Homo sapiens: one gene and its partners. The protein of the gene in region 7 purifies or fractionates together with the protein of the main gene of each other region. This does not show direct contact. Each region holds a gene or a part of one and is shown on either strand. Other genes may lie near its edges.

Evidence for each region.
Region 1: the proteins of MAP4K2 (region 7) and MPG purify together in Homo sapiens (affinity purification with mass spectrometry, with the first as the bait; one study listed by BioGRID). This does not show direct contact.
Region 2: the proteins of MAP4K2 (region 7) and CHLSN purify together in Homo sapiens (affinity purification with mass spectrometry, with the first as the bait; one study listed by BioGRID). This does not show direct contact.
Region 3: the proteins of MAP4K2 (region 7) and DNA2 purify together in Homo sapiens (affinity purification with mass spectrometry, with the first as the bait; one study listed by BioGRID). This does not show direct contact.
Region 4: the proteins of MAP4K2 (region 7) and DDX47 purify together in Homo sapiens (affinity purification with mass spectrometry, with the first as the bait; one study listed by BioGRID). This does not show direct contact.
Region 5: the proteins of MAP4K2 (region 7) and NKAP purify together in Homo sapiens (affinity purification with mass spectrometry, with the first as the bait; one study listed by BioGRID). This does not show direct contact.
Region 6: the proteins of MAP4K2 (region 7) and PYM1 purify together in Homo sapiens (affinity purification with mass spectrometry, with the first as the bait; one study listed by BioGRID). This does not show direct contact.

What each region holds. Positions count from the first base shown.
Region 1 is NC_000016.10:83,296-86,439, reverse strand, and holds the end of MPG (DNA-3-methyladenine glycosylase), read right to left. Parts: intron 1,055-3,144; exon of another isoform or gene 1,040-1,054; coding exon 663-1,039; 3' UTR 594-662; downstream 1-593. UniProt on the Homo sapiens protein: Hydrolysis of the deoxyribose N-glycosidic bond to excise 3-methyladenine, and 7-methylguanine from the damaged DNA polymer formed by alkylation lesions.
Region 2 is NC_000007.14:1,120,983-1,125,065, reverse strand, and holds part of CHLSN (protein cholesin), read left to right. Parts: intron 1-523; exon of another isoform or gene 524-4,083. UniProt on the Homo sapiens protein: Hormone secreted from the intestine in response to cholesterol, where it acts to inhibit cholesterol synthesis in the liver and VLDL secretion,leading to a reduction in circulating cholesterol levels. Acts through binding to its receptor, GPR146.
Region 3 is NC_000010.11:68,416,769-68,419,973, reverse strand, and holds part of DNA2 (DNA replication ATP-dependent helicase/nuclease DNA2), read left to right. Parts: intron 1-81; coding exon 82-171; intron 172-760; coding exon 761-940; intron 941-3,118; coding exon 3,119-3,205. UniProt on the Homo sapiens protein: Key enzyme involved in DNA replication and DNA repair in nucleus and mitochondrion.
Region 4 is NC_000012.12:12,819,639-12,823,721, forward strand, and holds part of DDX47 (probable ATP-dependent RNA helicase DDX47), read left to right. Parts: intron 1-1,569; coding exon 1,570-1,758; intron 1,759-2,016; coding exon 2,017-2,088; intron 2,089-2,326; coding exon 2,327-2,445; intron 2,446-3,022; coding exon 3,023-3,094; intron 3,095-3,564; coding exon 3,565-3,681; intron 3,682-4,083. UniProt on the Homo sapiens protein: Required for efficient ribosome biogenesis. May have a role in mRNA splicing. Involved in apoptosis.
Region 5 is NC_000023.11:119,940,622-119,945,337, reverse strand, and holds the start of NKAP (NF-kappa-B-activating protein), read left to right. Parts: upstream 1-1,586; 5' UTR 1,587-1,732; coding exon 1,733-2,118; intron 2,119-4,716. UniProt on the Homo sapiens protein: Acts as a transcriptional repressor. Plays a role as a transcriptional corepressor of the Notch-mediated signaling required for T-cell development. Also involved in the TNF and IL-1 induced NF-kappa-B activation.
Region 6 is NC_000012.12:55,917,468-55,921,550, reverse strand, and holds part of PYM1 (partner of Y14 and mago), read left to right. Parts: intron 1-3,802; exon of another isoform or gene 3,803-4,083. UniProt on the Homo sapiens protein: Key regulator of the exon junction complex (EJC), a multiprotein complex that associates immediately upstream of the exon-exon junction on mRNAs and serves as a positional landmark for the intron exon structure of genes and directs post-transcriptional processes in the cytoplasm such as mRNA export, nonsense-mediated mRNA decay (NMD) or translation.
Region 7 is NC_000011.10:64,792,883-64,796,965, reverse strand, and holds part of MAP4K2 (mitogen-activated protein kinase kinase kinase kinase 2), read left to right. Parts: intron 1-72; coding exon 73-157; intron 158-252; coding exon 253-332; intron 333-412; coding exon 413-473; intron 474-575; coding exon 576-693; intron 694-4,083. UniProt on the Homo sapiens protein: Serine/threonine-protein kinase which acts as an essential component of the MAP kinase signal transduction pathway.

The DNA of each region.
Region 1 (3,144 bases), on a different chromosome or scaffold from region 7:
GGCCTGCCAGGACTCCTGTCTCTGGGTGAGGCCGCATCCTTCAAGGCCCATGTGGGCTGTGCGTTTCTCAGACCCTCCTTCTGTCCCTACACCTGCTCCTTGGACCCCCCAGTCTGTGGCCACCCTGAAGAATGTGCAGAAACACTTGTGTGGCCTGTCCCTGTCTCTCTGACAGCCTTCTATTTGTGAAGTGCCCTGTGGCCCCCTCCCCAGCACCTCTGTCTGCCATGCGCTTCTTCCTCCCAGGCTACCCTGAGCCTTTCCTGGCCCAGTCCTCACCACAGTCCACAGAAGCCGCAAACAGGCTCATAGCCAAGCTGTGACCTGGTCCTGACCATCTGGGGCACGAGGGCCTGGGCTGGCCCTGCTAGGCTGGAGAAGCCCTGTCACCTGTGCACATCTTGCTGGTGGAGGCATGGCCCACTGTGCAGGACCCCACCCTCGGGGGCTTTCGGCTCCCACACTGATGATTCTCCCCAGCATCCACACCGGGCCTGGCGCTACGTACTCAGGCCCCCAGCTCTCGTGTCCTGGAGGAAGAGCTAGCTCCAGACATGGGTTGATCACCTAGAGGAGCTCTGGCTAAGGCACAGTTTTCTAGAAATAAAACATTTATTCGGTTTTTAAACAATTAAAAAATCTTGTCTGGGCAGGCCCTTTGCTCAGGCCTGTGTGTCCTGCTCAGCCACTCTGTCGACCACACTGACCCAGGGGCTGCCCCGGACATAGAAGCGGAGGGGTTTCCGGGCCCACTCCCCTGCATGGCCGACGCCCACCCGGGCTGCTGCCACTACAGCCGGCTCACTGGGCTCCAGGGGACCACGCTCCAGCCATACAGCTTCATCCTGTGCCAGGTCCCTCTGGTCAAAGCTCTTGTTGATGGCCAGGGCCTGGCACAGCTTGGAGGGGCCACTGCAGAGCTCGCGGTCCTTGAGGACACGGCTGGCGGTGCCTTTCCGGAGGGTGCTGCGAAGCTGACGCATGGTCTCCAGACCTTCCAGGGGCTCCAGTGCTCGCAGCAAGACGCAAGCCCCGTCCCCTGTGGGACGGACAGTTTGGAAGTGGAGCCTCCCTAGGCTCCTGTCCTCTCTGCCCTAGTACACATCCAGACATCCTGTGCTGCAGGGAGGGTGCAGCTGCCTTCCTGCCTGGGCCAGGGACCTGCTCTGTGCACCTGCACCATCTCCTGGGTCTGACCTGGTGGGAGGGGGCTGCACCTCACTGTGTCCAGACCCCTCTGCCTACCTTGCCATCCTCCAAGCCTGCACCATGAGGTGTGCCTCCTGTGGGCACCTCTGGCTTCCACCACCAGGCAGGGCCTCCCCCACTGTGGCCGCCCCCACAAAGCCAGACTGTTAAAAACACATGACAAATGCTGGGTATCAGTTCCTTTCCACCTGGCTTCCCCTGGTCTTGTGACTGGCAGCAGCTATAAAGCCAGCAAAGGAAGCTCCAGAGAGCCAGTCCTCGGGTGCGATCATTCAGCCAGGAAGCAGGAAGCCTTGGCCTAGCCAGGCCCCAGCGCTCCCCTTCTGCCTCACCCACTCAGTGTTTGTGTTGGTCAAGTGGTGGGGGCTAGGAGTTGGCTTAGAGCAGCTGCCAGTGTGCACCGGATGTTGGGAGAGCCCATGCAATGACTCAGTGGAAGGACTGACTGCAACACCCTGCACAGGCAGGGCAGGAGGAGGCTGACAAAGCCCCCTCACCTCCCTTGGGATCCCTCCTCCAGCCTAGCCCCCTCCCTCACCAGGCCAGGCCCCTTGAGAAACAGAGACAGCAAGCGAAGGCTCCTGGGCCCAGGGGCTCACTCAAGCACAGATACCCGAATTCCCTCTGCCCTGCAGGTTTGGAAAGGCCCCTTGGATTCCTGGCTGGGGACAATGATGACCTGGACCCTGGCCAGAAGAGCCCTGGCCCTCCAGCAAGGCAGCACCTGCTCTGATGCACCTGTGCACCCCTGGCCCTCCCAGCCACCTGGGAGTCCGAAGCTTAGCCTGGAGGTGGCCAAGCCAGTCCCTACTCTTGGGCTGCGGCCACGTGAGGCTCCGCATCAGCAGCCAGGGGCGAGCACTAGTGGACAAAGCCAGCAAATGCGGCGTTCCTGTGAGCAGATACCCTCAACCAGCCAGCTGTCAAAAGTATTTCAAGATAAAATCCAGGCCAAGCAAAGCCTTTAAGTTCCCGTCCATTCTGTGATTCCCACGCTGCTTCCAGCTCACCAGGTGGGGTGCCTGCTGCCCACCCTGACCCACCTCAGTAGGGAGGAGCAGGACCCTCTACATCCCTGTGGGTGCAGGGCACACGCCCCTCGTTGTCTCACTGAGCCCCCACAGAGCCGCCTGCAAATGAGTCAAAGCCTGGCCGCCCTCATCACCACAGCCCCGTGCCCTGGCTCCTTCACACAGAACACATCCAAGTCCCACATCCTGACAAAAACATGACCCCTTTGATCACTTCCTGCCAAACCTCCCTTTCCTCACCGACTCCTCCGCCGACCCTAAGTCCCCCTGCTGTGCCCACTGCTCCATCCTTGGCAACCTGACCACGCTGCTCTTAGCACTGCAGTCATCCTCTTCTCCAATCAGCTTCTCATCCTCATGTGCTGCCTCCGTCAAGGGCAGGCGACACTGTGTCCTCGGCCTTCTTTCTGCCTCCACTCCAACCAACCCTTTCTTTTCCTTTCCTTTTTTTTTTTTTTTGAGATGGAGTCTCGCTCTGTCACCCAGGCTGGAGTGCAATGGCGCGATCTTGGCTCCCTGCAACCTCCGCCTCCCGGGTTCAAGCGATTCTCCTGCCTCCGCCTCCCTAGTAGCTGGGATTACAGGAGCCCACTACCACACCCAGCTAATTTTTGTATTTTTGGTAGAGACAGAGTTTCACCGTGTTGGCCAGGCTGGTGTCGAACTCCTGACCTCAGGTGATCCGCCCGCCTCGGCCTCCCGAAGTGCTGGGATGACAGGCGTGAGCCACCGCGCCCGGCCCCACCCGGCCCTTTCTACCCCTTTAACCTAACCAGCCCTGCCCCGTCAGCGTAGCCAGAGCTCCCGAAACCCTGGCCTGGCCTGGAAGTGGCACCTCCTCGCTCAAATGCTGGCCCCACCTCAGTCCTCCTAGTGGTCCCCTGGCTGCTAGCGGACAGGGCTC
Region 2 (4,083 bases), on a different chromosome or scaffold from region 7:
AGGGGAGAAGCTGGGGTGTGTGCCTAGAGGAGCTCCTGGCTGTCTCAGAGGGTCGTCTCTCACTGCCACCCCCCGGGCGAGGGAAGCCAGACAGCACCCCAAGCACAGCCAGACAGCTTGTCCTGGGCTCTCTAGCAGAACACCCCAAGGTCACCCGGAGGCTGAGGCCTGGCAGGTGCAGAGGTCCTGCGGCTCCCGCGCAGCGGGTCAGCAGGCAGCCCCGCGTTCCACCTGAGCCTCACCTTGAATTTCGGCTCCTCCTCCGCAGGCTGTTGAATTCCTGTGTCTCCCAGGCTGACTGCCTCTTTTTTTTTTTTTTTGTGCTTTTTTAAAATTTTTTTTATTTTTTATTATTATACTTTAAGTTTTAGGGTACATGTGCACATTGTGCAGGTTAGTTACATATGTATACATGTGCCATGCTGGTGCGCTGCACCCACTAACTCGTCATCTAGCATTAGGTATATCTCCCAATGCTATCCCTCCCCCCTCCCCCCCCACCCCCCGACTGCCTCTTACTCACTCCTTCTTCACAGCCTGAGGTCCAGTTGTGCTTTTTAGTTTGGGTTCCAGATGGACGCTGGTTTCCCGAGAGCTGCTGGAGCTCTTGTTCTGTGGTTCAGCCCAGTCTCAATTCCGCAGAGCCTCAGGCACACACGACTTTGGTGGGCGCGGCGTCACCCTGGACTTTTTGAGTTGAGTCAAGAGGCTTCTGGCTCTCCCTTCTTGGTGAACCCTCCTCCAGCCAGATCCCCACACAGGCCGCTGGTCACTGGCAGCACCCCCAAGACAGCTCGGCTTACGGTGACTGTGGGCAGAGGTTAAAACTCCTGCCCAAGTGAGGGAGTGGTGTCTGTCCTTTTGTTTAGGTTCAAGTAATTATTTTAAAGTATGTGATTATTTTTCATTATTAAAATACGTGTTGATTAAAAGAAAGCTGGAAAGCAAGAGGGGAAAGAAGAAAGCCTTTGTTTCCTCCAGCTACGCTTTGAGGGCTGGACTCTGCTGGTCTGTAACACGCAGCTGCCGGCAGAGTCACCAGCTTTCACTTGGCTTTCCGGCCACTGGCGTGGAGTTGGTCTCAGGCCCGCCCAGCTGAGCGTTGGGAAGCGACCTGGAGCTGGTTCCTTAGCCTTTGGAGGAGCTGGCAGCGGGAAGAGGGCCTGGGAAGCCAGGGAATGCGGTCTCGGTGGAGCCCGGTTCACCAGCAGGGGTCGGCAGCACGTTCCTTCCGAGGGAGCTGGCGGAGGGAGCTGCCTTCAGCTGGATTCTCTGCAAACTGCATGCCCCTGTGGCCAGTTTCCGGGCTACTGGGAGGGTTTTCAGATGGAGTGTGGGGGCTCAGGGGCTCATGTTCTTGTATGTCTGGGAGCCAGTCTCCCAGTGAAATGGGGTGTCTCTGCTAATATGGATATTTCCTTGCTGACTCTCCCTGGTTCTCATGGGAAATTGTTTTAAAAAAAAAAAAGTTTCAAGCGTTTTGTGAAGCTGAACCCAAGTGCTTAGGAGGGTGGGCGGCTGGGCCTGGGGAGCAGCATTCCTGGGCTCCGGGGGAGCGTGTGGAAAAGTACTGCGCTGCTTCCCTCCCCTCCCCCAGTGGATCCTGGATGAACCTCCGGAATCCACCATCGAGGATGGAGAAGCCTGTGTCCCCCCGTGGGCCATTGTGTTGTCCTCCCAGCAACGTCCGTCTGGGGAGCCTGCGGGTCAGCGGCCACTCCCGGGGCCCCGTGCAGCCTCTTCCCACAGCATGAGCACTCTGAGCTTGCGCCAGGATCGCCGCCACGTCCCCAAGTGATGGGAACTTCATCGCCCCTTGGGGAGTGTTCCTTCAGCGTTCCGGTTCCCACTCAGGCCTGTGGGCTTGGCCCGGGAAGCCTCCTGGGCCGGGTGCACTCACTCTCCCAGGCTTCAGTCCCTGGTGCCTCTGTCTGGCGTTGGTGAGGTTTGGCCGTTCCTCGGTCCTGGGCACCAGGGCCTCAGGGTCTCGGCTCTGGGTGTTGTTTGCTGAGCTCCCCATCCCGGAGGGCCCTGCTGGCCTGGAGTGCTGGGGAGGTGGGCGGCTTGTGGTGGCCCGGCAGGAGGAACAGTTGCTCCCATGGGCCTGTCTCGTGTCTTGGTGACTGGGCTGTATGATTGCCCACTGGTCTTAGGAGGGACTGGCACCTGCCGCTTCTGTCCTCCTCAGCTCTGCGGGCAGGAGGTTCTGCCGCTGGGGTTGGCGCCTTGGGCCTTTCCTCTTGTGGACCAGAGGGGTCCCAGGGTTTGCCCTGTCTGCTTCCTGTTTCATAGCTAAGCCCTCCCCGGGGAGCTGGGGTTTAGGAGTTCTGTTTTCACGTTCCTTTAACCCTTCCAGGCCTGGTTTCCCACTTGAGCGGGTTGTGAGGATGAGGTTTCAAATGACACATGTCCTTCGGGAGGACTGTGGGGCCCCGGCTGAGCCAGGCCTGCTGCCCAGCATCCCTTGGGGTCGGCGGACATGGTGGGAGGTCATGTGACTCGGCAGGTCTTTCTGTCTTTCACCCTCCCCCTGCCTCTCCAGTCTCACTAAAGGGGACCCTTAGCTTCTCTGTTTCTGTCTGAAGCCACGGAGCCGTATGCGGGGGAAGGCGGCATACGCGTGACCACCCCATGCAGAGCCAGCCGAGTGGCTGCTGGTGTGGAGGCCCCTGTGATGACCTGGCCGCCTCCCTGCTGCTGTCAGTGCTGTTTGGCTGCCTGGAAATGGAAGGTGGGCTCCCTCAGTCCACTGCTGTCAGCATGTCAGCAGAACCCCCCTGGCTTCCTCTGCCTCGTAAGAATCCCTTATGTGTGCAACACTTTCCGTCCCCACGAGCATCTTGACAGCTGATTCTTAGCAGCCTGGAGGTGCCAGGGGCAGAGGCGTGGGTGCTGTGCTGGTTTCAGTCACCTGGCCAGCTGGTCCTGGGGAAGAGACTCACCCCTGGTTTCTGACTCTGGTTACCTCATGGAGCCCACTAGCAGAGACCAGGATCCCTTCCTGTGGCTGGCTGCGAGCCGGCGGAGCCTCAGTCGAGGGCAGGGTCCATGTGTCAAGGTGCCGTGTAAGGACCATGAGGGCTCAGACAAGGCCTCGGGTGTGTGCAGCACGCTGCCCTGTGTGAGTGCAGTGGGTGGGTGCAGCACGCTGCCCTGTGTGAGTGCAGTGGGTGGGTGCAGCACGCTGCCCTGTGTGAGTGCAGTGGGTGGGTGCAGCACGCTGCCCTGTGTGAGTGCAGTGGGTGGGTGCAGCATGCTGCCCTGTGTGAGTGCAGTGGCCACAGAAGGCTTCGTGGGCCACAGTAAGCCCAGGGTACCATGTTCCCAGGTGCAGTCTTTCTGGCCCTGGGTGTTTCATGGTCTTGGCTGTAAACCCGTCTGGCGTGACCGCCTGGCTGTGGGGCTTGCGCCTCGCACAGCCAGAACGCGGGGCACAGGTGGTGGTCAGCGGAAGGGAGCAGGGCTACTTGGCTTGAACCGGCGTGTAGAGGCTCTGGATTTGCTGCTTTTGTAATCTTGAAAATCAGTGTGTATTACTAGAGCATGAAGACCGCAGCTTTATAAAACCATCAAATGAGGCCGTGAACTTCATGGCCTTGAGAATTTGCTCTGATCCAAAATACTTAAGACCAATGGTATTTTGCCCCAAGAAGCATTACTGCCCTGGCAGTGGGATTGTGTGTCATTGAACTCTTGGGGCTGAGTGGTGGCTGGTGTCTGTGGAGGCTCCCTGGGAGCCCGAATTGTTTTTCTTAGTAGAATTCCACCCACCCCCACCACATTGTTTTTATTTTCTCCTGTCTGACTGCTGCATGCCGGGTTGTCTGCCGACTGAATTTTGAACTCATACATGTACAGGGCTGAAAGGCAGGTGGAACCTGAGGAACAGTCTTACGTGTGGGGGAACTGAGACCCCGAGAACTTGTGTGGTCTCCCTGAAGCCCGCGTAGGCAGCGGGAGGCCGGCTCCCTCCTTCATCCCTGCCGGCCACGCTGCCCCGTGTCCATCCGTTTTTGATCCGTTTTTGTGGCTGAGTAAAATAGTCCATCTGCCCCATGTCCATTCGTTTTTGGGGCTGAGTAA
Region 3 (3,205 bases), on a different chromosome or scaffold from region 7:
TATAGTCTTTATGGCCAGTTGCGTACTTATAGTACTCTTTAGAGATTGTATTATCAGCAGGCTGTATATTTTTCCACTTAGGTTCCAGCGCCAGAACAAGTTGAAAAAGGTGGTGTGAGCAATGTAACAGAAGCCAAACTCATAGTTTTCCTAACCTCCATTTTTGTTAAGGTAATTTAGAATTTTCAAGGCTAGCAAATATTAAAGTGCAGAATAAAAGAATGTTAGACTGTAAGACACTTACAATCTGGCATTAAGTCTCGTTTATTAAGATAAGGGGGGGATTGAAGCCCCATTGTTTTTATTTTGAGAAAATGTATCTAAGACATGTAATATTTTATAATGACATTTGGAGTTTTCATTTACGATAATAACTTTTTGTAATGTCAGCTAATTCTAATTGAGACAATACTATGTTGTAGTGATTAGGAATTGGAAATTTTTCTGTGAAAGAAATAGCAGAAGGTGAAATGTATTTCTTTGTACTGTGTGTGTGTGTGTGTGCACTGTTTTAGTAGCATATAATCCTTTACGTTCTCATGAAACTAAAAATTAAGGGAGCAATGTCTAAGGAATTATTTCATCCTGGGAAATATGGACAGATTTAGAGCAAATTCAGTAATTGTATTCAGTCTTTGAGATAGGAAAGTTTGTTATAAACATCAGTTGGGCACATAATGTAAACATTTAATTATTAAATTCAGAAAAGTTTAACTTAATCAGGATTTCTTTCTTTTAAATTGTGTCTTTTTCTATTTAGGCTGGATGCAGTCCCTCTGATATTGGTATTATTGCACCGTACAGGCAGCAATTAAAGATCATCAATGATTTATTGGCACGTTCTATTGGGATGGTCGAAGTTAATACAGTAGACAAATACCAAGGAAGGGACAAAAGTATTGTCCTAGTATCTTTTGTTAGAAGTAATAAGGATGGAACTGTGAGTTAATTGTGTTTGCTACTGATTCATTTGGGGCATTTCTCTCTCTTTAAAAATTGTGGGCCGGGCGCGGTGGCTCACACCTGTAATCCCAGCCCCCTGGGAGGCCAAGGCGGGTGGATCACCTGAGGTCAGGAGTTTGAGACCAGCCTGGACAGCATGGCGAAACCCTGTCTCTACTAAAAATACAAAAATTAGCCGGGCGTGGTGGCAGGCGCCTGTAATCCCAGCTACTTGGGAGGCTGAGGTAGGAGAATTGCTTGAACCCAGGAGGTGGAGGTTGCAGTGAGCCGAGATCGTACCATTGACTCCAGCCTGGGCGACAGAGCAAGACTCTGTCTCAAAAAAAAAAAAAAAAAAAAAATTGCGGTTTAACATTGAGAACATGTGGACACAGAGAGGGGAACAACATACACCATGGCCTTTAGCGGGTTGGGGGTGAGGGGCGGGAACCTGGTGGATGGGTCAACAGGTGCAGCAAACCGCCATGGCACATGTCTACCTATGTAACAAAACTGCACGTTCTGCAGATGTATTCTGGTTTTTTTTTTTTTTAAAGAAAATAAAATTGTGGTTTAAAAGAACACATAAAACATACATCTTACTTTTTTTTTTTTTTTTTGAGACGGCGTTTCCTCTTGTTGCCCAGGCTGGCATGCAGTAGTGCGATCTCGGCTCACTGCAACCTTCGCCTCCCAGGTTCAAGTGACTCTTCCGTCTCAGCCTCCCAAATAGCTGGGATTACAGGCATCGCCATCTTGCCCGGCTAATTTTTGTACTTTTCTAGAGATGGGGTTTCACCATCTTGTCCAGGCTGGTCTCGAACTCCTGACCTCAGATGATCCACCTGCCTTGGCCTCCCAAAGTGCTGGGATTCCAGGCGTGAGCCACTGTGCCCAGCCCATCTTACCATTTTTAGGTGTACAGTTTAATTAGTGTTGAGTGCATTCACAGTGTTGTTCAACAGATCTCTGGAACTTTTTCATTTTCAAATCTAAAACTCTGTATTCATGATTAACCACCCATTTTCTTCTTCCCCAGCACCTGTAACCACCATTCTACATTCTATCTCTGAATTTGACTAATCTAAGTACCTCATATAAGTAGAATCGTACAGCATTTATCTTTTTGTGACTACCTTATTTCACTTAGCCAGCTAGTTCATCCTGTTGTAGTATGCGACAGGATTTCCTTCCTTTTTAAGACTGAATAATATTCCATTGTCTCTATATACCACATTTTATTTATCCATTCATCTGTCAGATGGAATGGTTGCTTCCACCCCTTGGCTGTTGTAATTGAGGCCTGTTTAATATAAAATCTTCCTTGTATACTTTCAAATTTATAGACAATTCAGATTTGATTTTTTTTTTTTTTTTTTGAGATGAGATCTGGCTCTGTTACCCAGACTGGAGTGCAATGGCACAATCTCGGCTCACTGTAATATCCACCTCCCTGGTTCAGTGATTCTCCCATCTCAGCCTCCTGAGTAGCTGGGATTACAGGCATGCGCCACCATACCCAGTTAAGTTTTGTATTTTTTGCAGAGAGCCATGTTGCCCGGGCTTATGGGCAACTCCCGAGCTCTAGCAATCCTCCCACCTTGTCCTCCCAAATAGTGTTTTTTTTTTTTTTTTTTTTTGGTTTTCTTATTTTTACCTCTCCTTAGTTCATTTTTCTCAACTGTATAATACATCCATATGGTTTTAAAATATACGTAATAAAAGGTTTCCTTTGTACTCCATCCCTCATCTACTCAGTTCTTACCTCAGATAGTCTCCTTTTTTTTTTTTTGAGAGGCTAGGTCAGAGTGTGGAGGCATGGTTATGGCTCACTGCATCCTTGACTTCTGGGCTCAAGCAGCCCTGGCTCAGTGATCCTTTCATCTCAGCCTCCTGAGTAGCTGGGACCGTAGGTGCACACCACCACGCCTGGCTGATTTTTGTATATTTTGTAGAGATGGGGTCTCACTGTGTTGCACGGGCTGGTCTTGAACTTCTGGTCTCCAGTGATCCACCTGCCTCGGCCTCCCAAAGTACTGGGATTACAGGCATGAGCCACTACACCTGGCCTCATTCTATTCTTAAATTTGCACAGGTGTCCATTGTGTAGGGATGTGTTGTAATATATTTAACCATTCCTTTGAACTTGAATAATTGAAAATTATATTTCTTACAGGTTGGTGAACTCTTGAAAGATTGGCGACGTCTTAATGTTGCTATAACCAGAGCCAAACATAAACTGATTCTTCTGGGGTGTGTGCCC
Region 4 (4,083 bases), on a different chromosome or scaffold from region 7:
CTGGTTTTTAGACATATCTCTTTGAGTTTACTATAGGAATCTTAAGTTCCAAGTTCCCTGTGTGGAAACCAAAGTCCTTATTTTCCTCACCAGGACTAATTTTTCTGTTGCCTATATTGCAGTTTTTGGCTTTTGAGTGTCCCGTACTAAAAATGTGTGAGTCACCCACATTTCCTTTTGTTAGTTTCTGAATCTCATTCCTGTGCTCATTCCTGGCCTCAGTTCAGGCCACCATCATATCTCCCCTGAATTACATCCAATGTCCCAGTTAAGCCTTTGTTTTCCCTGTTCTGGTCATTTAAGTCATTTCTGATTGTAAGTCATGTTCAGGTTATGTCAGGGAAAAGAGATTTGTTTATTGTAGGATTATCTTCTAGGTAAAGAAAACTTCTCAGCAGTTACACAGTCAGAACAGGGGCAGCAACTGTAGGGGTCATGATTTAATAGGGAGCATTCTCACTGGCCACTGTGGTAGTGCATAGCTACCTCATGGGCTACAGCCAGCTCGGAGATAGTGATCTCAACTCAGGAGTTAATTTCCAAGTCTTATGAGTTGTGGCTTGAGTGGTGATAGCAAACAGTGGTGACCTGTTCTTAAAGAATTACTTAGAGCATTCTTCCCTCAGAAGGAGCAGTAACTGGCATGCACTGTTAAGTTCCTTGGCTCCTCCTTATGCCATCAGGTCTAGAGTTTATCTTCCTAAACAGTAATATTGATCATGATATTCCCTGTTTAAAATCCTTTAATTCTTTCTTATAGGAAAACATCAAAACTCTAGCCTCATTCTTCCCTCTTTCTCCCTTAACACTTCTGTGTTCCAGCCACATTGTACTTCTCAGCCTAACTATGCATGCTATGTTCTTTTTATTTTTTGAGATGGAGTTTCGCTCTTGTTGCCCAGGCTGGAGTGCAGTGGCACGATCTCCGCTCACCGCTGCCGCAACCTCCGCCTCCCGGGTTCAAGCAATACTCCTGCCTCAGCCTTCCGAGTAGCTGGGATTACAGGCATGCACCACCATGCCCGCCTAATTTTGTATTTTTAGTAGAGACAGGGTTTTTCCTTGTTGGTCAGACTGGTCTCGAACTCCCAACCTCAGGTGATCTGCCTGGCTCGGCCTCCCAAACTGCTGGGGTTACAGGCGTGAGCTACCATGCCCAGCCAGCATGCTATGTTCTCTAAAGCCTTAATTCTCTTTCCTCTTACAGGAATATCCTTTCTTCCCTTCTTTGCTTACTTCCAGTTTTAACTCACTTATCACCTCTGTTAGCCTTTTCTGACTCTTCTGGGCAGTAGTTACTTTTCCTTGTGTTCTCGCTGTATTTTGCAGGGGCTTATATTAAAACTCTTATCACATTATAATGCATTTGTATATTTGTCTGTCTCACCACTGGGTTTTGAGCTTATCTAAGAGAGAGGCCATGTCTTTTCTGTTTATTCAACTTTCCTCTCTCCCCAGTTCATCAGATATTTATTAAGCGTCTACTTTGTGCCCAGCATTGTGTCATTGTAGAAAACACAGAAATAGCGCAAAGAGATTACTTGGCTGTTGAATTTCTTTTTCTTTTAGGTCGTGATATCATTGGGCTTGCAGAAACTGGCTCTGGAAAGACAGGCGCCTTTGCTTTGCCCATTCTAAACGCACTGCTGGAGACCCCGCAGCGTTTGTTTGCCCTAGTTCTTACCCCGACTCGGGAGCTGGCCTTTCAGATCTCAGAGCAGTTTGAAGCCCTGGGGTCCTCTATTGGAGTGCAGAGTGGTAAGTGTCTGAGAGGGAAGGGATCCTAGGTTGCCATCACAAGTGAAGAATGAGTGTGGAGGAAGGAGAATGGAGGAAAGTATTGCTAGCATAATTTATTGACCTAAAGAGCTAATGTTGTATTTGAGCTTTGGGAAGAGTATTAATTGTAAGGGAAGAACAAATCTAAGTAGAAATCTGGCATTGGCTTTAAAAGATGTTCAGTGGACTGTGGAAAAAATTAAGGATCTCGTCTCTATGTTCTTTTTTTCTCTGTAGCTGTGATTGTAGGTGGAATTGATTCAATGTCTCAATCTTTGGCCCTTGCAAAAAAACCACATATAATAATAGGTGAGTAACTGACAAAGGTAAAAGACACTGGCAGTGATGAATTGGAGAAAATCTACCAGTGTTGGATAGAAAGACTTTGAGAAACAGATTTTGTAACCCTGTTAAATTTTTTAATTTCTTAAGTTAAATTTGGTGGAGAGCTGTGGGGTGGGGCAGATAACTTTATTTGTTTATTTGTTTTGTTTTTTTTTTGTCCTGTTCTGAAATGTCACTGTTTCTCCTCAACCTTTCTTGGTAGCAACTCCTGGTCGACTGATTGACCACTTGGAAAATACGAAAGGTTTCAACTTGAGAGCTCTCAAATACTTGGTCATGGATGAAGCCGACCGAATACTGAATATGGATTTTGAGACAGAGGTGAGCTCTCAATTTCTTTCCTCCTCTTAGAGCATCTCAAGGTTCCTGTTTCAAAATTTGGTTCATTGCCCACTTGTTTCATGTAGAACATTGCATTAGTATCAGTTTCATTCTTGATATTCTTCAAATTGCAGTTTCTCAGCACCCTTTTATCTTTAGAATATAGTCTGACTCTGACTTCAGAAATGGGAAATATCAAAACCGGATTTTCTTTTCCCTTTCGTTTAATTTAGACCTTGACATACACCCTGAAATATCTTTATTTTCTTTGATGACCCACTAATCCCAGCTTACTTAGTTGATTAATACTTTTTCTTGACTTTTCTCTTAAATCAGCTCTGGTCTACTAATTTAAACTGTTCTTTTCTCAGAAAGGTATTTTTTTTAATAGTATTTGGTAGGGTATCAGATAGTAAATATTCAGTAAACTTTAGCTGAATCAAATTGAATTTTCGAGTCCCAAATCTTCACAGTGATATATTTAGTTTGTTAGTGTCTACCTCCTTCACTACCTAGAGGATTTGCAGCTCTTCCAGTCTGAATATCATATTGGCATCTTTTCCTCTTTGTGCTTTAGGTTGACAAGATCCTCAAAGTGATTCCTCGAGATCGGAAAACATTCCTCTTCTCTGCCACCATGACCAAGAAGGTGAAATTTGCTAGGACTTTTGTTTCTTCTTTATGAGAATTGATACATAAAGTAAATAGTAATAACAATAAGGAAAAATAAATTGCTTTAGTCCGTTTTCACACTGCTATAAAGAACTATCTGAGACTAGGTAATTTATACAGAAAAGAGGTTTAATTGACTCACAGTTCCACATGGCTGGGAAGACCTCAGGAAACTTACAATTATGGCAGAAGGTGAAGGGGAAGCAAGGCAGGAGGTGGGGGCAGTGCCACACTTTAAAACCATGAGAAATTGTGAGAACTCACTATCATGAGAACCGCAATGGGGAAAACCACCTCTGTGATCCAATAACCTCCCACCAGGTCCCTCCCGTGACATGTGGGGATTACAATTCAACATGAGATTTGGGTGAGGACACAGAGCCAAACCATGTCATAAATAAAGAGTGTTTAGGCATCAGTGTGCTATTCTGGATCTTCTTCCTTCAGGTTCAAAAACTTCAGCGAGCAGCTCTGAAGAATCCTGTGAAATGTGCCGTTTCCTCTAAATACCAGACAGTTGAAAAATTACAGCAATATTATATTTTTATTCCCTCTAAATTCAAGGTAAAATGTTTACTTTGATCATTCCTGCCTCTCCCTCTTCTTTTCACCAAAGCATCTGAAAATGTGTCAACTCTTGATTAGGTAAGAGCTGTAATGCAGATTGGCATCCTGTCTGTTTGCTTTAGAGTGCATATCGTGCTTATATTATCACCGATAAGCCAGACATGCCAGGAATTCACAACACATTAAATCACAATACTGAGGTCATGATGTAATCATATAATTCCTTCCCATCCCCATCCTTGAGGTAATTTTTCCTTTGTCTGCTTATTATGTGGCTTTTATTTAGGATGAAGCCCCTGGTTTTGTGCTTTGATATAAGGACTTCTCCTGTTTGCTGAGTACAGATCTCCTGCCTGCCTTAAGGCTAAGTGGGGAATATGTGGTTCACAGAGATGATAA
Region 5 (4,716 bases), on a different chromosome or scaffold from region 7:
GGAGTTACAGGTGTAAGTCACCATGCCCAGCCCCAAATTCAATGTTTGATATTGACAGCATGGTAGAGTGAGAGTACACTATTTTTTTTTGGAAACACAGTCTCACTCTGTTGCCCAGGCTGGAGTGCAGTGGTGCAATCTCACTCTCGGCTCACTGCAACCTCAGCCTCCCGGGTTCAAGCGATTCTCGTGCCTCAGCCACCCTAGTAGCTGAGATTACAGGCACGTGCCACCAGGCCCAGCTAATTTTTGTATTTTTAGTGGAGACAGGGTTTCGCCATGTTGGCCAGGCTGGTCTCAAACTCCTGACCTCAAGTGATCCACCCGCCTCTGCCTCCCAAAGTGCTGGGATTACAGACGTGAGCCACCATACCAGGCCGAGAGTACACTTAACAAAAATGTATTGTGCTCAGATAATGGACACCTTAAATACCCTGACGTCATCACTACACATTATATACATGTAACAAAATTTCACATGTATCCCATAGATTTGTACAAATTTAAAAAATAATAAAAAATTAGCTGTGCATGATGGCACATGTCTGTAATCCCAGCTACTCAGGAGGCTGAGGCAGGAGAATCACTTGAACCTGGGAGGCGGAGGTTGCAGTGAGCCAGGATAGCCACTGCACTCCAGCCTGGATGACAGAGGGAGCCCTTGTCTCAAAAATAAAAAAATAAAAAATAAAATGACACTTTTTGGGGAAAAAAATACAAGCCAGACGCAGTGGCTCACACCTATAATCCTAGCACTTTGGGAGGCCGAGGCTGGCGGATCGCTTGAGCCCAGGAGTTCAAGACCACCTGGGCAACAAGGTGAAACCCTGTTTCCCCCGACCCCCCTCAAAAAAAAAACTACCCAGGCTTGGTGTCGCATGCGCCTGTAATCCCAGCTATTCAGGAGGCTGAGGTGGGAGGATAGCTTGAGCCCGGGGAGGCGGAGGTTTGCAGGGAGCTGAGATCTTGCCACTGTACTCCATCCTGGGCGACAGAGTGAGCAGAGTGAGTTCCAGTCTCAAAAAAAAAAAACCTCCTTTTGCTGGGGCATATTGGTGGAGACGGTGGCTAGGGGATAAGTATGCAGTTTTTCTCTAGGCGGGAAACTTAATTGAAGTTTATCAGGCGCGAGTCATTAACAAAATTTGCGCCCTCTAAGCTAACACGGCAATATGGGGCTTAGACACCATAGCTAATCCCCAGTCGCGAAAAACCCTCCCGATTTGCTTGGGATTGGAAAGAAAAAGAAAATACACATTCATACTTTCATACATGACATACACACACACACACACATTTATATATAAATACACACAGAAAGCACAGGAAACACAAGCAGAATTAACTGTCTTGTTCATACGGCCACTCAGTGAAATGTATACTGTATATTGTGTTTGAAATATATACTTCCCTTCAAGTGTTTCAAGTTCAAGGCTGAGAAAGAACTTGGTCTCTTGCTTAGACTTGAGGAGCCTCACTCGGAACTGGAAGGATGCACGCAATCTAGTTGCCCCACCGGCTTATTTATATTGATGCACACATCGCTTCCTGTCGGTGACGACCGCCTAGATCCGGGGAAGGGTTTTGCAGAAGTACCCAGAACTGTGTCCAAGGTTTCCTCAGATTTGGGCTGTTCCGCAGCGGCAGGTCCCGGGAACCAAGGCAACAGACATCTTCCTAGGCTCGCGAGAGCGCCCCCTTGTCCCACGGCTGCTGGGGCCCCCCAGTAGCCATGGCTCCGGTGTCCGGCTCACGCAGCCCGGATAGGGAGGCCTCGGGCTCGGGGGGAAGACGTCGCAGTTCGTCGAAGAGTCCGAAGCCCAGCAAATCTGCCCGCTCCCCGCGGGGCCGCCGCTCTCGCTCGCACTCTTGCTCTCGGTCCGGGGACCGGAATGGACTCACCCATCAGCTGGGTGGCCTCAGCCAAGGCTCCCGAAACCAGTCCTACCGCTCACGCTCGCGGTCGCGTTCTAGAGAGCGGCCCTCTGCGCCCCGGGGCATCCCCTTCGCTTCTGCCTCCTCGTCAGTCTATTACGGCAGCTACTCGCGCCCCTACGGGAGCGACAAGCCTTGGCCTAGCCTCCTCGACAAGGAGAGGGAGGAGAGCCTGCGGCAGAAGTGAGTGAGACGGCCGCACTTTCTCTTGTACGAGCCTACGTGCCTTTGGAGTCCGATCTATCATTCATTCCGCTTCTGACTATTCGCATTTCGCTCACTCTGCTTGCCTTGCGCCCATTTTCATCCCTTTCTTTAATCCACCCACGACAACCCTTTATTCGTCCTTTTCATTTTCCCTTACCCTCAGGCCCCTTCATATAGTGCCCTGGTCTCCCGCTACCCCCTTCCGCCTCCTGTCTTGTTAGCGAATATTGCCGAGAGTTCAGACCTACCAGAACTGTAGCATTTACCTGGTTGTGTCATTATCATTCGTGAATATATTTGTATTCCCCACTAGACTGAGCTCATGGAAAGGAGGAGCCAGTGAACGGAGGAGAATTCTGATCACAGAATTCTAAGTGCCTGGTACTTTATAGGCGCTCAACCATTGCTTGTTGAATGAAGGAACTTACAGGTCTGAGATAACAGGATATTTATGTAGAAACGTTTTGTGGGGAATTAGGAAGGAATGAAATCAAGGGTTTAAGTTGGAGAGGAAATAAACCTTCCCCTCAGACAAGACGATTAGATGCATGTAGGAAAAGTGATCTGATAAGCTATAGATGACCCCACTTTGAGGAAGGTCTTGTTAAGTGGTCTCAGTCTTGACCTCGAAAAATGACGCCAGGATGAGACTAGATCTCTAATCAAAGTGAGTATTGGAGTGGAAAAATGCATAGCTTGGGGATTGTTTTGTTTTGTTTTTGAGACAGGGTCTAGCTCTGTCGCCCAGGTTGGAGTGCAGTGGTGCAATCTTGGCTCACTGCAGCCTCCACCTTCTTGGGCTCAAGTGATCCTCCCACCTCAGCCTCCCTCATAGCTGGGACTATAGGTGCGCACCACCACACCCGGCTTATTTTCGTATTTTTTGGTAGAGACAGGGTTTCACCATGTTGCCCAGGCTGGTATCGAATTTCTGGGCTCAAGTGATCCTCCCACGTTGGCCTCCGGAAGTGCTGAGATTACAGGTATGACCCCACATGCCCTGCCGAGCCTGTCCTTTTCATCACTATACTTTATTACCTCCCACTGCCGGAAGAAAAAGACTCAAGACATCTCCCAACTGTTGGAACTTTAACCTACCTCTCAATGCCTGTAATATTTCTAAGTTTCTCATTTTTTTAAACATATAAGTGCACGTAAATAACTTAGTACAGTGCCTGACACATAATTTAACAATAAACAAGATATTAAGACTTACACAGCAATAATTATGAGCCTTTTCCTTTCTCCTTAAAACTATGCATTTTTTGGCTGGGCACAGAGGCTCATGCCTGTAATCCCAACACTTTAGGAGGCCAAGGCAGGAGGATCACTTGAATCCAGGAGTTCAAGACCAGCCTAGGCAATATAGGGATACCCTGTCTCTACAAAAAGTGTTTTAAAAATCAGCTGGGCGTGGTGGCATGTGCTTGTAATTTCAGGTACTGGGGATGCTGAAGTGGGAGGATCACTTGAGCTGGAGAGGTCAAGGCTGCCATGAGCCATGATCTCACCACTGCACTCCAGCTTGGGTGACAGAGGGAGATGCTGTCTCAAAAACAAACAAACAAAAAAAAACAAAGAGAAGAACAGGAAGAAAGAAAGGAAAAGGACAAACTCCAGAATCAGACTGAGTATGAAGCCTTTATTTGCCACTTAATAGCTGTGTGACCTTGGTCAAGTTACTTAACCTCTCTGGGCTCCATTTCTTCATCATTAAAAGGGGGATAAAATAAGTACTATGGATTAAAAAGGGGATAAAATAAGTACTAGGGATTTGGGGATTGTAATAATTAAGTGGCTGGAACATAACTATTCCATAAGTGTTAGCTATTAATGTTTCATGCATGGGAGCAAAAACAGTAAAAACAGTCCTGAGTTAGGTTGGAGACCCATCTCTCCAAGTTACATTTTTCAGAAACATACCCACAGGCTATGTCAGTCAAAAAGTAAATAGTTTCTTCTTGGAGAATCCTCACCAAAAGATGTCAGAAGTGCTTGGATGAAACTTGCATATGTACATTTAGAAAATAAATAATTTATCTTTTTTTTTTTTTTTGAGATGGAGTCTCACTCTGTCTCCCAGGCTGGAATGCAGTGGTGCAGTCTCGGCTCACTGCAGCCTCCACCTCCTGGGTTCAAGTGGTTCTTCTGCCTCAATCTCCTGAATAGCTGGGATTACAGGTATGCACCACCACACCCAGCTAATTTTTGTGTTTTTAGTAGAGACGGGGTTTCGCCATGTTGGCCAGGCTGGTCTCGAACTCCTGACCTCAGGTGATCCACCAGCCTCAGCCTCCCAAAGTGCTGGGCCCGGCCAATAATTTATCTTAACATTACAGATGAAACCAGGTGACAACAGGACTTCCTGCTATTTACAGCCTGGTAGGCGTTCTTCCCCCGATATCCATACATTCCAAGTACAGCTATAAATATGTTACCTTTTAAATTGTCTGTTACTTCAGGTGGGAAACCCTCTCAGTCTGACTCTGCATAGTTATAATACCTTTTCCCCTGATTAAGGAGGCAAAAACGATTTATACAAAAACTCATTGCAATTATATTTATTTTGGAAGG
Region 6 (4,083 bases), on a different chromosome or scaffold from region 7:
TCTATGGGAGTATTTTTTTTTATTTATGGGAGTTTTATTTTTTTATGATTATTTTTATTATCATCTTTTACTTCTCTCTTGCCCTCCTCATGTATATCAGTTATCAAAATATCATTCTTTTATTCCTACTGCTGTTACCCTTATCCCATCTACAGTACTTGTTAGCTATATAGCCTTGGGAATCTAAGTCTTAGTTTTCTCATCAATGAAATTGGAATAACTCCTGCAACACAGGATTATTATGCGTATTAAAATTTAAATAAAGTAATTTACATGTTTGGCACATAAAAAGTGTCCAACACATTGTTCTATAATTATTACTATTATGTAAGGGTCATTGTATGGGTTAGAAGAAATTACTATATATGGCCAAGTACCAGGCATAGTACTTGGGCCATTCCAAGTGCCTGCTAAAATTCTAGTTTCTGTTGTTCTGCAAATATTACTGTGACCTCCTAAACTGGTCATCGTATTTCCAGTCCCTCTCTTGTTTCATTTCTACAGATACACTGCTACCAGATTACTGCTTCTTAAGTGCAAATTTAGTTATGTAATTTTTGTTCAATATTAATTCATCAACCCAGAGTCTGCTGTTATATATGGCATATATCTTTCTAAACTGTTTTAAACATAGCAGAACCAGATGGTATATACATTTTTATATCTTGCCTTTTCATTTAGCCTTATGAGGTAAATGTTTTTCCTTGCTATTAAAAACTCTGTAAACATCTTTTAAAATACTGGCAGAGTGTTTTATAGTTTGGGCATGCACCCTATCTTACTTTCTTCTGTTATTGGACTTTTAGATTGTTTTCAGAATTTTTATTATAAGAACACTAGAATGTTTTTGTGCATGCATCTTTTTCGGCATTTAGGGTTATTTTCTTTTTCTTTTTTTTTCTTTTTTTTTTTTTGAGACGGAGTCTCGCTTTGTCACCAGGCTGGAGTGCAGTGGTGCGATCTCTGCTCACTACAATCTCCACCTCCTGGGCTCAAGTGATTCTCCTGCCTCAGCCTCCCGAGTAGCTGGAATTACAGGCATGCACCCCCACTCCCAGGTAATTTTTGTATTTTTAGTAGAGATGGTGTTTTACCATGTTGTCTAGGCTGGTCTTGAACTCCTGGCCTCAAAGGATCGCCCACCTTGGCCTCCCAGAATGCTAGAATTACAGGCATGAGCCACCGTGCTCGGCCTGATTTTTTAAATTATCTGTAAGATGAGGTCTTGCTATGTTTCCCAGGCAGGTCTCCAACTCCTGGGTTCAAGTGATCCTCTCACCTTGGCCTCCTGAAGTGTTGGGATTATAGGCATGAGCAACTAGTTTTTCTTTTCCTTTTTTTTTTTTAAAGAGACAAGGTCTTGCTCTGTTGCCCAGGTTAGTGTACAGTGGCACAGTCATAGCTTGCTGTAGTCTTAACTGTTGGGGTCAAGCAATTCTCCTGCCTCCTCCTCCTGAGTAGCTGGTACTAGTACTACAGGCATGCGCCACCATGGCTGGCTAATTTTTGAATTTTTTTATAGAGCTATGTTGCCCAGGCTGTTCTCAAACTCATTTTCACAAGCAGTGCTCCCACCATGGCCTTCCAAAGTGGTGGGATTACAGGCATGAGCCACTGCACCCAGCCTAGTTTTTCTTTTTTCTTTTTCTTTTTTTTTTGAGACGGAGTCTTGCTCTGTCTCCAGTCACCCAGACTGGAGTGCAGTGACGCGATCTCTGCTCTGCCAACTGGGCTCAAGCTATTCTGCCTCAGCCTCCCAAATAGATGAGATTACAGGCACGCACCACTATGCCCAGCTATTTTTTTGTATTTTTAGTTAGAGATGGGGTTTCACCGTGTTGGCCAGGCTGGTCTCGAACTCCTGACCTCAGGTGATCTGCCTGCCTTGGCCTCCCAAAGTGCTGGGATTATAGACGTGAGCCACCATGCCTGGCCCCCAGCCTAGTTTTTCTAAGCACATATGCATATATAACATTAAGGTAAAATGACATATTTTGAATTATACTGTTAAGATTGGCTGTTATTTTCTAAAATATGAATCCTTGAAACACCTAGTAATCTTCTGAGATGTGACACAAAATAAATAACTAAAATAGAGGCCGGGAGTGGTGGCTCACGCCTGTAACCTCAACACTTTGGGAGGCTGAGGCGGGTGGATTGCTTGAGCCCAGGAATTCGAGACCAGCCTGGGCAACATGGCAAAACCTCGTCTCTACTAAAAATACAAAAAATTAACTGGGTGTGGTGACACACACACTCCTGTAGTCCCAACTACTTGGGAGGCTGAGGTGGGAGGAATTGCTTGAGCCTGGGAGGTGGAGACTGCAGTGAGTCAAGGTCCAGCTATTGCACTCCAGCCTGGGTGACAGTGACCTCATCTCAAAGATAAATAAAATAAAATGCAAATAATGTTTCTGTGCACAAATTTTGAGAAACACTGTAAACCATATTCCCATCTTGCATATGTACCTGAATAAGAACATAGTAACTCATTTAAGCCTTGCTGTTAAAAAAAACAAACGCAAAATCTTTTTTGGTGTTTAACCCAGAATTTCCCAAACTTATTTAACAATTTTTAGGGATAACCCCTGTTTAATATCTTATGGGAGTAGTATTTTACATAACAAAAGCTTTGGGAAATGTGATTAAATGATAGGACTACCTTTTTTATTTTTGTTTTTTTGAGATGGACGCTTGCTCTGTCGCCCAGGCTGGAGTGCAGTGGTGCAATCTCGGCTCAGTGCGACCTCTGCCTCTCAGGTTCAAGCGATTCTCCTGTCTCAGCCTCCCAAGTAGCTGGGACTACAGGCACGTGCCACCACGCCCAGCTAATTTTTGTATTTTTAGTAGAGACGGGGTTTCACCGTGTTGGCCAGGCTGGCCTCAAACTCCTGACCTCAGGTGATCCACCCGCCTTGGCCTCCCAGTGCTGGGATTACAGGTGTAAGCCACCATGTCCAGCCTAATTTTTAAATTTTTTATAGAGATGGAGGTCTTACCATCTTACCCAGGATGGTCTTGAACTCCTGGGCTCAAGTGATCCTCCTACGTCAGCCTCCTAGTGTGCTGGGATTACAGACGTGAGCCACCATGCCTGGCCTATTTGTTGATTTCCATTTTTATTTTAGATTTAGAAAATGTGCAGGTTTGTGGTTGGGCGCAGTGGCTCACGCCTGTAATCCCAGCACTTTGGGAGGCCGAAGCGGGCGGATCATGAGGTCAGGAGATTGAGACCATCCTGGTTAACACGGTGAAACCCCATCTCTACTAAAAATACAAAAGAAACTTAGCCGGGCATGGTGGCGGGCACCTGTAGTCCCAGCTACTCGGGAGACTGAGGCAGGAGAATGGCGTGAACCCGGGAGGCGGAGCTTGCAGTGAGCCGAGATCACGCCACTGCACTCTAGCCTGGGCGACAGAGCGAGACTCCGTCTCAAAAAAAAGAAAAAAAAAAAAAAGAAAATGTGTAGGTTTGTTACATGGGTATAATTATGTGATGCTGAGGTTTGGGGTATGAGTGATCCCATCACCCAGATAGTGAGCTTAGTACCCAATAGTTAAGTTTTTTTTTTGTTTGTTTGTTTGTTTTTTGTGATGGAGTCTTGCTTTGTTGCCCAGGCTGGAGTTCAGTGGTGTGATCTTGGCTCACTACAACCTCTATCTCCCGGGTTGAAGTGATTCTCCTGCCTCAGCATCCCAAGTAGCTGGGATTACAGGCATGCACCACCATGACCGGCTGAGTTTTGTATTTAGTAGAGTTGGGGTTTCACCGTGTTGGCCAGGCTGGTCTCCAACTCCTGACCTCAGGCGATCCATCTAGCTTGGCCTCCCAAAGTGCTGGGATTACAGGCGTGAGCCACTGTGCCTGGCCCCAGTAGATAGTTTTTAAACCCGTGCCCGCCTCTAATAATCCCCAATGTCTGTTGCTGCCATCTTTATGTCCGTGAGTACCCAGTGTTTAGCTCCTACTTATAAGTGAGAACATGCAGTATTTGGTTTTCTGTTCCTGTGTTAATTTGCTTAGGATAATGGCCCTCAGCTGCATCCATGTTGCTACAAAGGACATTATTTTGCTCTTTATGG
Region 7 (4,083 bases):
AGCCCTGCAGTCCCACAGCCCTGCCACCCACCACCCCTGCACTCCCTCGCCAGCCTCTTGCCTCCTCTGCAGATGGGCGCCTGCTTCTCCAAGGTCTTCAATGGCTGCCCCCTGCGGATCCACGCTGCTGTCACCTGGATTCACCCTGTTACTCGGGGTAGGTGGGGGCAGGGAGGAAGCGGGAGCCCAAGGAATCCCTCAGCTTGGGCCAGGGGCCATGTCTGACCTCTGACCCCATGCCCAAACTGGCAGACCAGTTCCTGGTGGTAGGGGCCGAGGAAGGCATCTACACACTCAACCTGCATGAACTGCATGAGGATACGCTGGAGAAGGTGAGGCCCGGCTGGCTGTGGGGGGCAGAGGCCTTGTGGGGGCCTGGGGTGCTGACCATCTGTCCCTCTGTGGCCTCCAGCTGATTTCACATCGCTGCTCCTGGCTCTACTGCGTGAACAACGTGCTGCTGTCACTCTCAGGTACAAGGTGGGATGGGCAGGGAGGCAGGGTCCGCAGGGGCTCCAGCGCCTCAGCATCCTGCCCACCAACACCCCAGGCCTGGCCTCTTCCTGTTTCTGCAGGGAAATCCACGCACATCTGGGCCCATGACCTCCCAGGCCTGTTTGAGCAGCGGAGGCTACAGCAACAGGTTCCCCTCTCCATCCCCACCAACCGCCTCACCCAGCGCATCATCCCCAGGTCAGGGATCTTGGGCGTGCAGGGAGCGGGAGGCAGAGGGGCAGGGAGGGGCTGGAACATGGCCTTGCCAGTTCCTGGGATTGCAGCAATCTTAGACGTGTTGTCTCTCTGAGCGCCCGTTTCCTCCTCTGTCAATACAATTGATGGCCTTCCCACCCCCTCCCGCCGGCTTGTTGGGAGGCAAGAAGGAGACAGTGGATGTGAAAGTGCTTTCCAAGTTGTAGGAGCTGTGGTTGTTCGGATGTGGGGCTTGACAGTTAAGCAAACGTTTACTGAGCACTTATGCTATGTTGGCCCCTATGCTGGGCTTCGGGACATGGAGAATCCCATGAGTCCTCGCTTTCAAGAAATGGGGGAGATGGGCAAGTCCTTGCTTTCAAGGATTCCCATGAGTCCTTGCTTTCAAGGATTCCCATGAGTCCTTGCTTTCAAGAAACAGCGGGGCTGGGTGTGGTGGTTCATGCCTGTAATCCCAATCCTGTAATCCGAGGCAGAAGGATTGTGTGAGGCCATGTGTTTGAAATCAGCCTGAAAACACAGGGAGACCTTGTCTCTACAAAAAATCAAAAAAGTCTGGGCGGGGGGGCTCACGCCTGTAATCCCAGCACTTTGGGAGGCCAAGGCGGATGGATCACGAGGTCAGGAGATGGAGACTATCCTGGCTAACATAGTGAAACCCCGTCTGTACTAAAAATACAAAAAAAATTAGCCGGGCGTGGTGGCACATGCCTGTAGTCCCAGCTACTCGGGAGGCTGAGACAGGAGAATCGCTTGAACCTGAGAGGCAGAGGTTGCAGTGAGCCGGGATCACGCCACTGCACTCCAGCCTGGCCGACAGCAAGAGTCTGTCTCAAAAAAGAAAGAAAAAAAGCCCAAAAAATCAAAAAATGGGGCCAGGCGCAGTGGCTCAGGCCTATAATCCTAGCACTTTGAGAGGCCGAGGTGGGCGGATCATGAGGTCAGGAGTTTACGACCAGCCTGGCTAATATGGTGAAACCCCGTCTCTACTGAAAATACAAAAATTAGCTGGGTGTAGTGGTGCGCACCTGTAGTCCCAGCTACTCGGGAGGCTGAGGCAGAAGAATCACTTGAACCCTAGAGGCAGAGGTTGCAGTGAGTGGAGATTGCACCACTGCACTCCAGCCAGGGCGACAGAGTGAGACTGCATCTCAAAAAAAAAAAAAAAAAAAATCGAAAACTTAGCTGAGCATGGTGATGTAGGCATGGCGTTGTGTGTTGGTGGTCCCAGCCACTCAGGAGGCTGAGGTGGGAGGATTGCTTGAACCCAGGAGGTTGAGGTTGAAGTGAACTGTGATCGCGATCGTACCACTGCATTGAAGCCTGGGCAACAGAGCAAGACCTTGTCTCAAAAAAAAGAAAAAGGGAAATGTGGACAGTTAGCAGCCGGTACTGAGGTCCAGTTAGAGGGAGAGCTGGGAGGTGTGGAGAGGCCTCAGAGACCGGGCAAGCTTGGGAGGTTCGAAAGTGTGTCAGGGTTTCTAGGCAGGTGAGGTAGGGAATGGCACTCCAGGCAGGGGGAAGAGCAAGTATATGTTAGTATGTGTTGGGGCGGAGCAGCCTGGTGAGCTGGGGAGCTGTTAAGAGTTTGCCTGGGGGCCAGGCACAGTGGCTCACGCCTGTAATCCCGCACTTTGGGAGGCTTTGGCGAGTGGATCAACTGAGTCAGGAGTTCGAGACCAGCCTGGTCAACATGGCGAAACCCCGTCCCTAGTAAAAATACAAAAATTAGCCGGGCATGGTGGCGGGCGCCTGTAATCCCAGCTACTCGGGAGGCTGAGGCAGGAGAATAGCTTGAACCTGGGAGGCGGAGGTTGCAATGAGCCGAGATCGCACCATTGCACTCCAGCCTGGGCAACAGAGCAAGACTCCGTCTCAAAAAAAAAAGAAAAACAGAAGAGAAAAACAGTCAGATTCTGATTCTCTTTTGCAAGTTGAGCCAGTAGGATTTCCTGATGAAAGAGAAAGAGGAGTCAAGGATGGCTCCAAGGTTTTTGGCCTGGGTGTCAGGAAGAATGCAGCTGTCATCAGCTGAAGGTGGAGCAGTTTCAGGGGGAGCTGAATTCAATTTTGTTGCATGAACATGCTTATTAGATGTGCAAGTGGGACCTGCGTCAGTCCATGGCTTGGTGGGGCTGGGCTCTGAAGGGAGGGGCCCTGGGCTATGGGCCCCCGACATTGTCATGACCAGGTGGGTGGTGTGGGAAGCAGTGGACTGAGTGCAGAGGGTAGGGGAGGCCAGGCCAGTGGCTGCAACAGCTGGGGAGCTCAGGAGCCCCCTTCCTGCAACGTGCTCACTCCAGGACCACATCTGGAGCCCGGTGGCCTTGGGGCTTCCTGAGCTCAGTCCCCAAGTGAGTCTGCTTTGGCGCAGGACCTACAGGAAACAGGCCCATCAGAGCCCCAACAGGTCACAGGCAGCTTTGAGCTTGTGTTCGGGAAATGGCAGAGGCACAGTGAGCACTTTGAATGCAAAGAACAGAGAACTGGAGTTGTTTGGAGAAAAAACAAATACAAAATATATGCTTTTGTCCCATCCAAAGACCAGATGGGGAGGAGAGTGGGAGGAATGTGGGGAGAGGGAGGGACGAGGACCAGGGACAGTGAGAGACAGACATTGGCTTCCTCCATGTCCTGGCAGAAGGTACAAACAGGACATGGGCCACTGGGTGGAGGTGGCAGGGCTGCTGACAGGAAGCCCCATTCCCCAGAGGAAGAAACAGGCTGAGAGGGTCCCCTGGAGGGTTAGGGGACACTCAGTGGCCAAGGCAACGGCCCCTCTGATAACTTTTCCTCACTACTTCTACCCCGACAGCAAGGCAAGCCACCCCCTGGCCCCACAGGGCTGTTGCCTCTGCTGGAGAAGCAGAGGGCAGGCCATTTGCCTTTTGAAGTTCATTCACTGCCCCGGGCCTGTTTTCCCATCTGTGAAATGGGCCGTGTGCAGTCTGTGCAACCTGGTGGGGCTGGAGCCTGCATCCTCCCCAGCCCCTCCATGCTCTCATTTCTTCATTCCTTTTTTCTTTTTCTTTTTTTTTGAGACCGAGTTTCACTCTCATTGCCCGGGCTGGAGTCCGATGGCACAATCTCGGCTCACTGCAACCTCCGCCTCCTGGGTTCAAGCAATTCTCCTGCCTCAGCCTCCCAAGTAGCTGGGATTACAGGCACGCGCCACCACGCCTGGCTAATTTTGTATTTTTAGTAGAGACAGGGTTTCTCTATGTTGGTCAGGCTGGTCTCGAACTCCCGACCTCGGGTGATCTGCCTACCTCGACCTCCCAGAGTGCTGGGATTACAGGCGTGAGCCGTTGCACCTGGCATCATTTCTTTCTTTATACCCTGCCTTTACCTGACAAGGACTTTCAGTGACTC